3 linked regions of the Homo sapiens genome follow. The protein of the gene in region 2 interacts with the protein of the main gene of each other region in a pairwise test. Each region holds a gene or a part of one and is shown on either strand. Other genes may lie near its edges.

Region 1 (3,751 bases), on a different chromosome or scaffold from region 2:
ATGAGCCCCTGCCAGGGTCTGTCCACTTCCCAAAAGACTTCTTCCCCACCTTCCCATTCCCAACCATGCCAAGGGTTTCAGGGATGGAGAATGGAATCCTTCCTCCTGCCTCACAAGAACCACTCACCCAGACCTGCAGCCTCTTCCCATACAGGACTCCAGGGCACAAGGCTAACAGCTCCAGCAGCAGCTACTATGAACAGGTCCACACCAACTGCCACTGTCCAATCTTAGTGGTACCCTTTCTTGTGCTACTTCCTGGGTCCACACCCAGCCTAGGTGGGACCAGCCTACTCCCTGCCCAGCTGAGGACAGGACGAGGCATGGCTAGGGAGCTGTCCGTCACACCTCATGGGGTGGGCAGCATCTAAAGCCAGGTGGCACCTCTCACCTGGTTACTCACCACCCCACTCACAGAGCCTGACACAGCCTCACTGCCTCCCCACACTCACAGAGAAGCAGGTTCTGGCTCCTGTCACTCTGGGCTAGGGAAGGACACAGTGGGGGTGGGACACTGAACAGGTCAGCCTCTATTCTCTTTCTCTGAGAACCAGAGCATGCCACGCTGCACACTGCTGGTGGAGGCAGCCTAGGGGACAAAAACCTTTGGTTCTCAGCCCACTCCAGGACCAGGATGGGGCCTTTCCTCTAGGCTCCTAACACCCACACACTGGCAGGTCCTGGTCCCCATGGTACCCTAGTGCCCAACACAGAGCCTGGTACAGAGCAGGTGCTCAGATATTTGTTAAATGAAAACAAAAACATATGAGATCAGTGCCTTTCTCCTACTATCTGAATCTGTTTCTCCCTCCATAATATGGAGTGTGGACCAGGAGGCCTCAGGTCCTTCCGGACCAGTCTGTGATAGCCACGAGCACCTGAAGCCTGGGGGTCCATGGTTCCCTGAACCTGTTACAATCTCTGTCAGGCAGAGAATGCACTGACCAGCTCCAAGAGTAAATGGGGACCCAAGTGTCCCTGAGCCATCCCAGGTGCCAAGTGTGACCTAGCTCTAAATGGGGACACAGGTGTCTTCTGGACTGACCCAGGACTGGGATGGGCAGGGTCAGAAGGGCCACCTTGACTTGTTCATCATCCTCTGTGCCACCCAAATGACCACAGCCAGGCCAAGGGTCTAGGTTTGCTCAGTCTGACCTCTCAGCATATGTTAGCACAAGTGGTTTTCCCACCCATCTTTGTTGTTGTTAAGCATCTGTTGAGGGCTAAGTGCTGGGGTAAATGCCTCACCTATATCACTTAACTCTTCTCAGTCTACTATGAAGCAGGTATTTTATCATTACTCTGCAGACAAGGAAATAGAGGCTCAGAAACATTATGGGATATGCCTAAGATCACTCAGCAGGACAGTGATGGGACAGAATCAGAACTCGGGACTGCTAGCCTCAAGGCTGTGCTCTCAGGCCACAGTCCCCCAGACAAGCACCCTAGTCAGACTATGACCAACCAACCCTGGAGACCCAGGGCCCACCCCATGGGGTCCACCACATCTCTGGGAAAGCTGCAGGAGGCAGTGGCCAGGCCAGAATATCCCATGCCAGGCTTCTTCCATCTCACTCTTCCCTAGACCAGCCTCCAGCACTGACCCCAGGGTACCCTGCTGCCTTAGCCCTTTCCCATCCAGGAATTAGCACCTCCAACCCAAGAGGCAACCTGTTGATTCCAGAACAGGCAGACACGCCAATGAGAAGACAGCCAGCTGCAAGGACTCTTCTTGCAGAAGGCTCTGACTGGGCCAGGTGTGGAAGGGGGGGCAGGGCCTTACACAACGGAGCCCTTGAAGGGGTGAGGGTCACACATCTGCTCTAGGAGCTCCCCATAGCCCACTGTCTGTCCCATCCCACTCAGGCTCCAGTGCTCCCAACTTCAGTTAGTGCCATCTCCTGGCCATGTGACTGCAAAACCTCAACCAACCCATGTCGCCTCTCACCTGGACCCAGCCCAATCTCTTCTACGGCCTCCTGCCTCATCTCCTTCCCTCCTCCACCTGCCCTTCAGCTAACTTCCTAAAACAAAGGTGGCAAATTGTGCCACATCCTTCTTCTCAACCTGCTGTACTTCCCCACCACCTGGCTGGGCAAACCCTTCCACCTTTCTCCACCCAAGACATGTCTACTAACCACAATTCTCTGGTCATCCCATGTCTTCAGGCTCTTGCTGTCACAGTTTTCTTAGCCAAGTACCCCTTCCCAACAAAGCAAAATTCTACTTACATGAGAAGGCCCAGCTGAAATCTACCCCTTCTCTGAGCCTCCCCAGCAGACTCATGGCAGCCTCCCTGAACCTACAGCTCAAAGTTCTGTGGACATCAAGCACAGTGTCTTGTTGGAGAATCACTTATGTGGGGCTGACATGTCAGCCACACAGAGCTTCCTGAGGGCAGAGCCAGGTCTGATTCATCTCCAGAGTGTAGGTGTAGAGTAGAACCTGGCACAGAGAGGGAACCAGTACATCCTGTTTCAACTAGTGCCCCAGTAAGCCGGTCAGCACACATTGGGTAGACTGCAGGACTTGTGCACTTGAGCTCTCCAGGCAAGGAAATCAGAGCTGGGGATTCCAAATGCTTGGTTTGGCATGGCTTAGTAGTAGAGGCTGAAGAACCCTTGACAGAGCTGCCAGCCCATCCAGCTGTGGGCAGCACCACCCCATAGCATAGCAGTAGGTTACATTAGCAAGCTCTGACTCACCATAGGTTGTAAGAACAGCCAGACGCTCACAGGGTGCTAGTGATGCTGGATTAGTTTTTGACTTCAGCATTCTGAACATTCTAAGTAACTCATCTGGCTCCACTAGCCCCCTTGGCCATCTCCCAGCACCAGCTTGAGGTCTAAGGAAATGCCATATCACCAGGTTGAGGGGCATCAGAATGGCTGAAGAGGTAAGATTCCAAGCCCCATCCCCAGGGACTGCCCTCTCAGCCCTCAAGGGCCTACAACTATGGCAGAAGAGCTGAGGGATGGAAAGCACAGAAACAGCAAGATGTAACCCCAAAGAGTGGGCAGAATCTGAATGGCCTGGCCTTAGAGCACTGGCCCCAAATGGAGATGGAAGGAGGGATGACAAGAAGAGGAGGCAGGGGACCAAAGTCCTGGCAGAAGCCAGGGATTCATGGTGGTATAGTCCACTGCATTTGGAAATCCACAAGTAGCCATGGGCAAGGGGAACCAGACCTGGGCAAATAGAAAGCCCACAAATGGATGCCGGGAGCAGAAGTCCAGGCTAAATCTGGAAGGTGCTTCAAGCTCATAGAGGAGGGGTCTGCAGGGCCAGCTTGAAGATTCTCCCACCCTTTCCTCAGCAACCAAAACTACCCTCCCCAAAGAAGCCCTGGCCCACCAGGCCCATCCATGGGGCAGAACCCCATGGAGACTCCTTACCATGTGGGGGTTGTCATAGTAGACAGCGATGGAGCGGAGCTTGGGAGAGATGCTGCAGCTCTCAGTGAAAAGCCGCCCAGTCTCACCATAGAGCCCCATGTGGAACTTGTAGGCCACAGTGACGTTGCGGATGGGGGGTGACCCAGCACTCACTTCCACCCCAGCCAGTAGCCCTGAGTACCCGGCAAAGGCCAGCAGCGTCAGCAGCAGTAAGAGAGTCAGGCCCCCAATCAGGCCCAGTAGTAGCAGGTCCGACATGGCTCTGGATCCCCAACACTGCACCTCAAGGCAGCTGCAAAGGAGAAAGAAGGGAGAGGAGGCTGGTAGCCTACTCTGACAATGTGCCCACTTGCCCG
Region 2 (3,751 bases):
GGCTGAGCTCCTGAAGATTTTTAAGCATGGCAAAGCGTGAGGTGAAAGTCACAATTTGATTTCAACTTTACAAAGATCTTTGACTACTGGGTAGGTAATTCATTATTGCAGGATTGGGGCAGAAGTGGAATTAGAGAGATCAATTTGAGGTGTCTATGAGATTTTCAAATAGACAAGAAACGATGGTTGCATAGTCTGAACTATGGTTTAGGGCAGTGGCGACAGAAAGAAGTAGATGGATTCACAGTCTATTTTTGAAGGCAGACCTGATGGTACATTATAATTAATTATATGTCAACAAGAGGTGAAAAAGCAAGGATGACTGGCTTGGGTTATTAACTCAGTGACAGCCCCACTGAGGTAAGGAACACTGCATGAGGAGCAGTTTGGGCATGGGGAGCAAAAAGGGCAGATGATTCCAGCTTTGCAAATGTTGAATTTGAGGCCATTAAAACATTCAGGTAGGGCCATTCCAAGTAATAGTTAACTACACAAATCTTGAGTTCAGGAGAGAAATCTGTGGCAGAGATATGAATTCAGGAGTCACTGGCATGGAGACAGAGAGGATGAGATAACCCATGAAGAATGTGAAGGATAAGAAGAGCCATCTAGAAGTCGAGATGAAACCCTGAGGAGGCTAGAGGGGCAGAGATGGATAGTTAGACTTAAAGAGTGAGCAGAAGAAGAGGAACTTATAAGGGAAAACTAGAAGAATCATTTTGAGAAGTAGTTAAAATGGAGTGGTGTTACAGAAAACAAGGGAGAAGATAGTTTTATGAAGGAGAGAGACAAGGTGAGATGACAGAGATATGATCATTGAATTTTGGATCAAGAAAAGAGTTGATAACTTTGGTGAGAATATTTTCAGTGGAGGGCTAATGGTGGAAGCCAGACTGCAGAGGGCTGAGCAGTGAGTGGGAGGGTGAAGAAGTGGAGACATCAATAATGAATGGCTTGTTTAAGGATCTTGGCTGCAAAGAGAATGATCAAGATAGGAGTAATAGCTGCACAGGGAGGAGGTAGAGTAGGGAGCTCAAAAAGTAGTAGTAAATGTTTGAAGCAGTCATCAGAAGGGTGCTTACCAGGGAGAAGTAGAAGGATTTCCAAGCAGCACTGAAGGCCTCAATGAGATACATAGTCATGATCAGGACAGGTACAATTGTGCCAAGGTTAGCAATAAGAAACCAATGTCAAGAAAGACTTGCTAATGAGTGACAGAGGTGAGATTCAAACTATGTTTCTCTCCCTTCATCAAATGTTTATCGGCTCCTGCTCTGCACTGCTTTGCATCAACACTGGCATTGGTGTTTCCAATGCTGATGAATCGTATTGACTATCAATCATGTGCCCAATGCTGTGGAAGCATGATAGACATTTAATATATATTTTTTCACCCTTAAATTGTTTAGAATTTGGTTGAGGAGACAAAATATTCCACAAATGCATATATATTATAAATATATATAATATACATTATATATATACATAGTGAAGCTCTGCTGTCTCTCTCTCCCCCCTTACCTCTTTCTTCCTCTGATCCCCCATCTCTCTCTTTCTTCTTTCCCAACGTTGGGCAGCACTTCAATGACCCTTACACTGAAGCGTTATTGACTCATTTGGAAAGTCCCTATATTTTAGTCATATGGAGCCCCTCAAACCTCTTTGCCAACTTCATTCATTTATTAAGAAGACAGTTTTTGAATTGCTGCTCTGGATAAAGCAGTATGTAAGGCACATGAGATACAGAGATACATAAGATATAGTCTTGCCCTCAAGTAGCTCACAGGCTAATAGGGAAGAATGAGGGTTTAAACAGGAAATTGCAACATAATGCAAAATGTACTATCTCTGCCTCAGTTTCTTCATCTATACAATAGGGATTATTAGTGCCTACCACAAAAAAACCTGTGACGACTAAATAAGTTAGCATGTAAAAAGTGCTTATAATGGTCCCATAAGAAACACTACATAAGTGTTGCTATTATTATTATTACTATGATGGAAGTAAACACAAGATACTGTAAGAATAGACAGGAGGGGTACTTGACCCAGGCTAGAGTAAGAGACATCTGTGCTGAATCCTAAAAGATGAGAAGGCACTAAACAGAGGAAGAAGAATACATAACACTCTGCATAGAATATTCTGTTCTATTTCTATTTGGGAGCAAAAGACCACATGGCATGATTGAAGAACTGGAAGTAATTTAATTCCACAATAGTACAGACTATGAGGAGGGAAATGGCAAGAGATGAAGCTTGAGAGGTCATGGGGTAAACCAAGCAAGTTTGGACTTTACTTTTTAGCAAATGGGGAGCCACTGGAATGCTTTATGTAGAGTAGTGACTCGATCAGATTAATGTGTTGAAAGATCACCTTGGCAATGATGTGGAGAATGAATTGGGAGAAAGACAAGTTAGAAAGCTGTTGCTATAATCCAGGTGAAAGAGAATGATGAGGTCGTGCATGGTGGCTCACACCTGTAATCCCAGCATTTTGGGAGGCTGAGGTGGGCGGATCACTTGCAGTCAGGAGTTGGAGATCAGCCTGGCCAGCATGGCAAAACCCTGTCTCTACTAAAAATACAAAATTAGCTGGGCGTGGTGGCGTGCACCTGTAGTCCCAGCTACTCAGGAAGCTGAGGCACAAGAATCACTTGAACCTGGGAGGTGGAGATTGCAGTGAGCTAAGATCACGCCACCCCACTCCAGGCTGGGCAACAAAAGCAAAATTCGGTCTCAAAAAAAGAATGGTGAAACTGAACTAGGGAAGTAGCAGTGGAAATGGAGAGAAAGGAACCATGGATTTGAGGTATATTCATAAGGTAGAACTGGTGGGACATAGGGACTATAGGATGCAGGAGGTAAGTAGAAGAAAGGTGCTAAAGATCACTTTCCGGATTTTGGTCTGGCACAAGTGGATGGATAGAGGTATCATTCAGTGAACACAGGGAACACAGGGAAGAACTGTTTGGGGAAAGCTGCATGGGGGATGTGATGAGTTCACTTTTGGACATGTCAAATTCGAGATGTCTATGAGATTTCCCTGTGGAGATTCTGACTAGGTGATTGCTCTGCCAGTCTTGAAGCTCAGAAGGGTCTATCCTGGAAATTCAGATTTGGGAGGGTCAGTGGATGGGTAGTAGATTAAGTTATGGGGGCAAGATGAGTTTGCTCAGGGACAGAGTGTTAATTGAGAAAAGGATGGACTTCTGAGGAATACTCACATTTAAGAGATGAGTAGGGAAAGAGAAATCTTGAAGAAGGCTAAAATGGAATAGCCAGATTGTGGTGGGTTGAAAAATTAGTGGGTTAGTTCGGGCACGGTGGCTCATGCCTGTAATCCTAGCACTTTGGGAGGCTGAGGCAGGTGGATCACTTGAGCTTAGGAGTTCAAGACCAGTGTGGGCAACATGGCAAAACCTGGTCTCTACAAAAAATACACACACACACACACAACTAGCCAGGTGTGGTGATGCGCTCCTGTAGTCCCAGCTACTTGTGGGGCTGAGGCAGGAGGATCACACACACACACACACACACACACACACACACACACACAACTAGCCAGGTGTGGTGATGCGCTCCTGTAGTCCCAGCTACTTGTGGGGCTGAGGCAGGAGGATCACACACACACACACACACACACACACACACACACACACAAACTAGCCAGGTGTGGTGATGCGCTCCTGTAGTCCCAGCTACTTGTGGGGCTGAGGCAGGAGGATCACTTGAGCCCAGGAGGTCGAGG
Region 3 (3,751 bases), on a different chromosome or scaffold from region 2:
TATGTAATATGAAGCCAAAGATCTCAGGATTGAAAGAAACCTTACAAGCCATCAATTCTAACTCTCTAAAACTGCTTAAAAAACTGACTTCCTTTTACGACCAAGATGAAGTAACGGGCCAGATTTACTCTCAGATTTGCTCTCTTTGGTTGTCTTGAAACAACCAAAAACAAACAAACAACTTTTCCTGCCAACAAACCCAAAATATGAAACAATGATTTTCAAGATATTTAACATCAGGTAACAAAGGACAGTGATCCCCAGAGAAACAAGAAACAAGTGGTTGCCAGCTTACTGCCTTAGTTTCTGAGCCACACAAGGAGGGGAACCTAAGCAGAGCCCAGCAGATTCCCTGAGTTCATGGGATGCAGCTCATAGTCTGAAGAGACCAAGGTATCTAGGATTAAAGCATATAGTACCAGAGTGGATACAGCTGCACACAGAGAGAACTCCAGAAATCTGAATAGGATATCCCATGGGTATTTGGCAGAGCACTGATAAGTAAAGGCTTATGAGGCAACTAACGGGCTAAGGAAAGGACCACACACAAAATTAGAGGACACAGAACCCAGCATTCATACAGGGCCAGGATTAGTGCATGTTCCCAACAGACAGACTGGAAAACCTCAGAATTCCCAGGGCACTCGGTAGAGCACTCAAAAAAATCTTGTCTCAGTAGTGGGAAATAATTAGCTCTAGACTAAACATGGCACTAATCCTGCCAATACATCTTAAAAGCAAGACTTGAAAGGATCACATTATTTCCAAGTAATAGCACAACAAGCCTTAAGAATATTTATAAGAATACAGAAATATCCAGTACTCAACAAAATAAAATTCACAATATCTGGCATCTCAACAAAAATTACCAGGTATAAAAAAATATGATCCATAATGAAAAAAATCAACAATTAAAACTGACCAATGATTAGAACTGACAGATGTGGGAATCTGCAGAAAAAGGACACCAAAACAGCTATCATAACTGTATTTTTAAAATGATGTTTATGTTCAAAAATTTAAGTAGAGGTATGAATGACATAAAAGAGATCCAAGTTAAACTTCAGGAGATGAAAATTTCAGTGTCTGAGATGAAAAATACACTGAATGGGATTAATGGCAGATTAGATATTTTAGAAGAAAATATTAGTAAACTAGAGATGTAGCAAAAGAAACTATGCAACATACAGAAAGAAAAAAGAATCAAAAATATAAACAAAGCATTGATAAGCTCTGTGACAACTTCAAACAGCCTAATATACATGTAACTGGAGTCCCCAAAGAAGGGGGAAGGAGTCAGGAGAAATACTTAAACAAATAAGGCTGAAAATTTCCCAAATTTGATGGAAACTATAAACACACATAAGAAGCTCAACCAATCCCAAATAGCCATAAAGAAAATTATAGCAAGGTACATGATAATCAAATTGCTCAAATCCAATGTAAAGAGAAAATCTTTAAACTGGCCACATGAAAAATGCACATCACATACAAGGAACAAAAGATAATAATGACAGATTACTCTTTGAAAACTGAAAGTAATTAGACAGTGGAACAATGATCTTTAAAGAACTAAAAAGAAAAATATGCCAGCCTACAATTCTATACCCAGAGAAATTATCTTTGAAAAAGGCAAAATACTTTCTCTACATAAAAAGCTAAAGGAATTCATCACCATCATACCTGTACTGTAAGTCTTTTAGGCAGAGGAACATAATACCAGAAAGGAATATGGATTTATACAAAGCAATGAAAAACATCATTAATGTTAACGACATTGGTAACTAAGATTTTTGCTCATTATTATCTAAATCTCTTCAAAAGATAACTGAATAAAATGGACAAAATCCTAGAAAGATAGAAACTAACAAAACTGATTTAAGAAGAAATACCAGATATGAATAGACTTATATGACAAAAGATTGAATTAATAATAATAAAAAAACTACTCACAATGAAAAGTCCAGGCCAAGAGGCTTCACTGGTGGAATGTACCAAACATTTATTTATTATTACTATTATTTTTTTTGAGACAGAGTTTCGCTCTTGTTGCCCAGGCTGGAGTGCAATGGCGCGATCTCAGCTCACCGCAACCTCCGCCTCCCACGTTCAAGGGATTCTCCTGCCTCAGCCTGCCGAGTAGCTAGGATTACAGGCATGCACCACCACGCCTGGCTAATTCTGTATTTTTAGTAGAGATGGGGTTTCTCCATGTTGGTCAGGCTGGTCTTGAACTCTCGACCTCAGGTGATCCACCCGCCTCAGCCTCGAAAAGTGCTGGGATCACAGGCGTGAGCCACCACACCCAGCCTAGCAAACATTTAAATAAGAATTATTATTATTAAATAAGAATTATCTTCACAGACTCTTCCAAAAAATAGAAGAGGAAGCATTCTATAAGGTCAGTATCATCCTGCTACCAAATCCAGACATTAAAAGAAAACCATAGGCCAATATCCTATATGAATATAAATACAAAAATCCTCAACAAAATACTAGCAAAACGAACCCAGCAATATATAAGAGGAATCATACATCATGGCCAAATAAGATTTATCCCAGGACTGCAAGGTTGGTTTAACATCTGAAAATCAATTAATGCAATATACCATATCAATAGAAGACAAAATTCACTTGATCATCTCAACAGACATGGAAAAAGCATTTGACAAAATCCAACACCATTTCCTAATAAAAACCATTCAATAGGGGCTGGGTGCGGTGGCTCACACCTGTAATTCCAGCACTTTGGAAGGCCGAGGTGGGCAGATCCCACGAGGTCAGGAGATAGAGACCATCCTGGCTAGCACAATGAAACCCCGCCTCTACTAAAAATACAAAAAATTAGCCGGGTGTGGTGGTGGCATGCACCTGCAGTCCCAGCTACTCAGGAGGCTGAGTTAGGAGAATCACATGGACCTGGGAGGCGGAGGTTGCAGTGAGCCGAGATCACGCCACTGCACTGCAGCCTGGGCGACAAAGCGAGACTCCATCTCAAAAAACCAAACCAAACCAAACCAAACACCATTCAATAAACTAGAAGACACCTTCCTAATCTAAGAAAAGGGACCTACAAAAAACCCATAGCTAACATTGTATTTAATGATGAAAGACTGTATGCCTTCCCCCAAGATCAGGAATAAGACAAGGATGTCTGTTCTTGTCACTTCTATTTATATTGTACTAGAGGAGGTTGTAGCCAAGGCAATTAGGCAAGAAAATGAAATAAAAGGCATCCAGATTGAAAAGGAAGAAGTAAAACTATCCTTATTTGCAGATGATATGATCTGTATGCAGAAAATCCTAAGGAATTCACTAAAAATCTATTATAACTAATAAATGAGTTCAGCCAGTTGTAGGATACAATATCGATATACAAAAATCAATTGTATTTCTCTACATTAGCAACAAGCAATCTGAAAATGAAATTAAAAAAACAATCCTGTATACAATATGGCATCAAAAAGAATAAAATAGGAATAATGTTAACAAAAGAACTGCAAGACTTGTATTCATAGAAACTACAAAACATTGTTGGAAGAAAGTTAAGATTTAAATAAACAGAAAGACACCACACTCATGATTGGAAGGCTTAATATTGCTAAAATGGTAATATTCCCCAATTAATGTACAGATTAAACACAATCCTCTTCAAGAATCCCAGTGGACTTCTTGCAGAAATTGGCAAGCTGATCTTAAAATTTATACAAATTCAAGAAACCCAGAATAACCCAAATAATATTGAACAAGA

Evidence for each region.
Region 1: the proteins of CLDN2 (region 2) and TEX264 interact in binary tests that used the Homo sapiens proteins (3 or more experiments, as listed by UniProt).
Region 3: the proteins of CLDN2 (region 2) and CSGALNACT2 interact in binary tests that used the Homo sapiens proteins (3 or more experiments, as listed by UniProt).

The regions. Positions count from the first base shown.
Region 1 is NC_000003.12:51,674,207-51,677,957, reverse strand, and holds part of TEX264 (testis-expressed protein 264), read right to left. Parts: intron 3,688-3,751; coding exon of another isoform or gene 3,654-3,687; coding exon 3,396-3,653; intron 1-3,395. UniProt on the Homo sapiens protein: Major reticulophagy (also called ER-phagy) receptor that acts independently of other candidate reticulophagy receptors to remodel subdomains of the endoplasmic reticulum into autophagosomes upon nutrient stress, which then fuse with lysosomes for endoplasmic reticulum turnover.
Region 2 is NC_000023.11:106,923,269-106,927,019, forward strand, and holds part of CLDN2 (claudin-2), read left to right. Parts: intron 1-3,751. UniProt on the Homo sapiens protein: Forms paracellular channels: polymerizes in tight junction strands with cation- and water-selective channels through the strands, conveying epithelial permeability in a process known as paracellular tight junction permeability.
Region 3 is NC_000010.11:43,148,346-43,152,096, reverse strand, and holds part of CSGALNACT2 (chondroitin sulfate N-acetylgalactosaminyltransferase 2), read right to left. Parts: intron 2,311-3,751; exon of another isoform or gene 1,954-2,310; intron 1-1,953. UniProt on the Homo sapiens protein: Transfers 1,4-N-acetylgalactosamine (GalNAc) from UDP-GalNAc to the non-reducing end of glucuronic acid (GlcUA). Required for addition of the first GalNAc to the core tetrasaccharide linker and for elongation of chondroitin chains.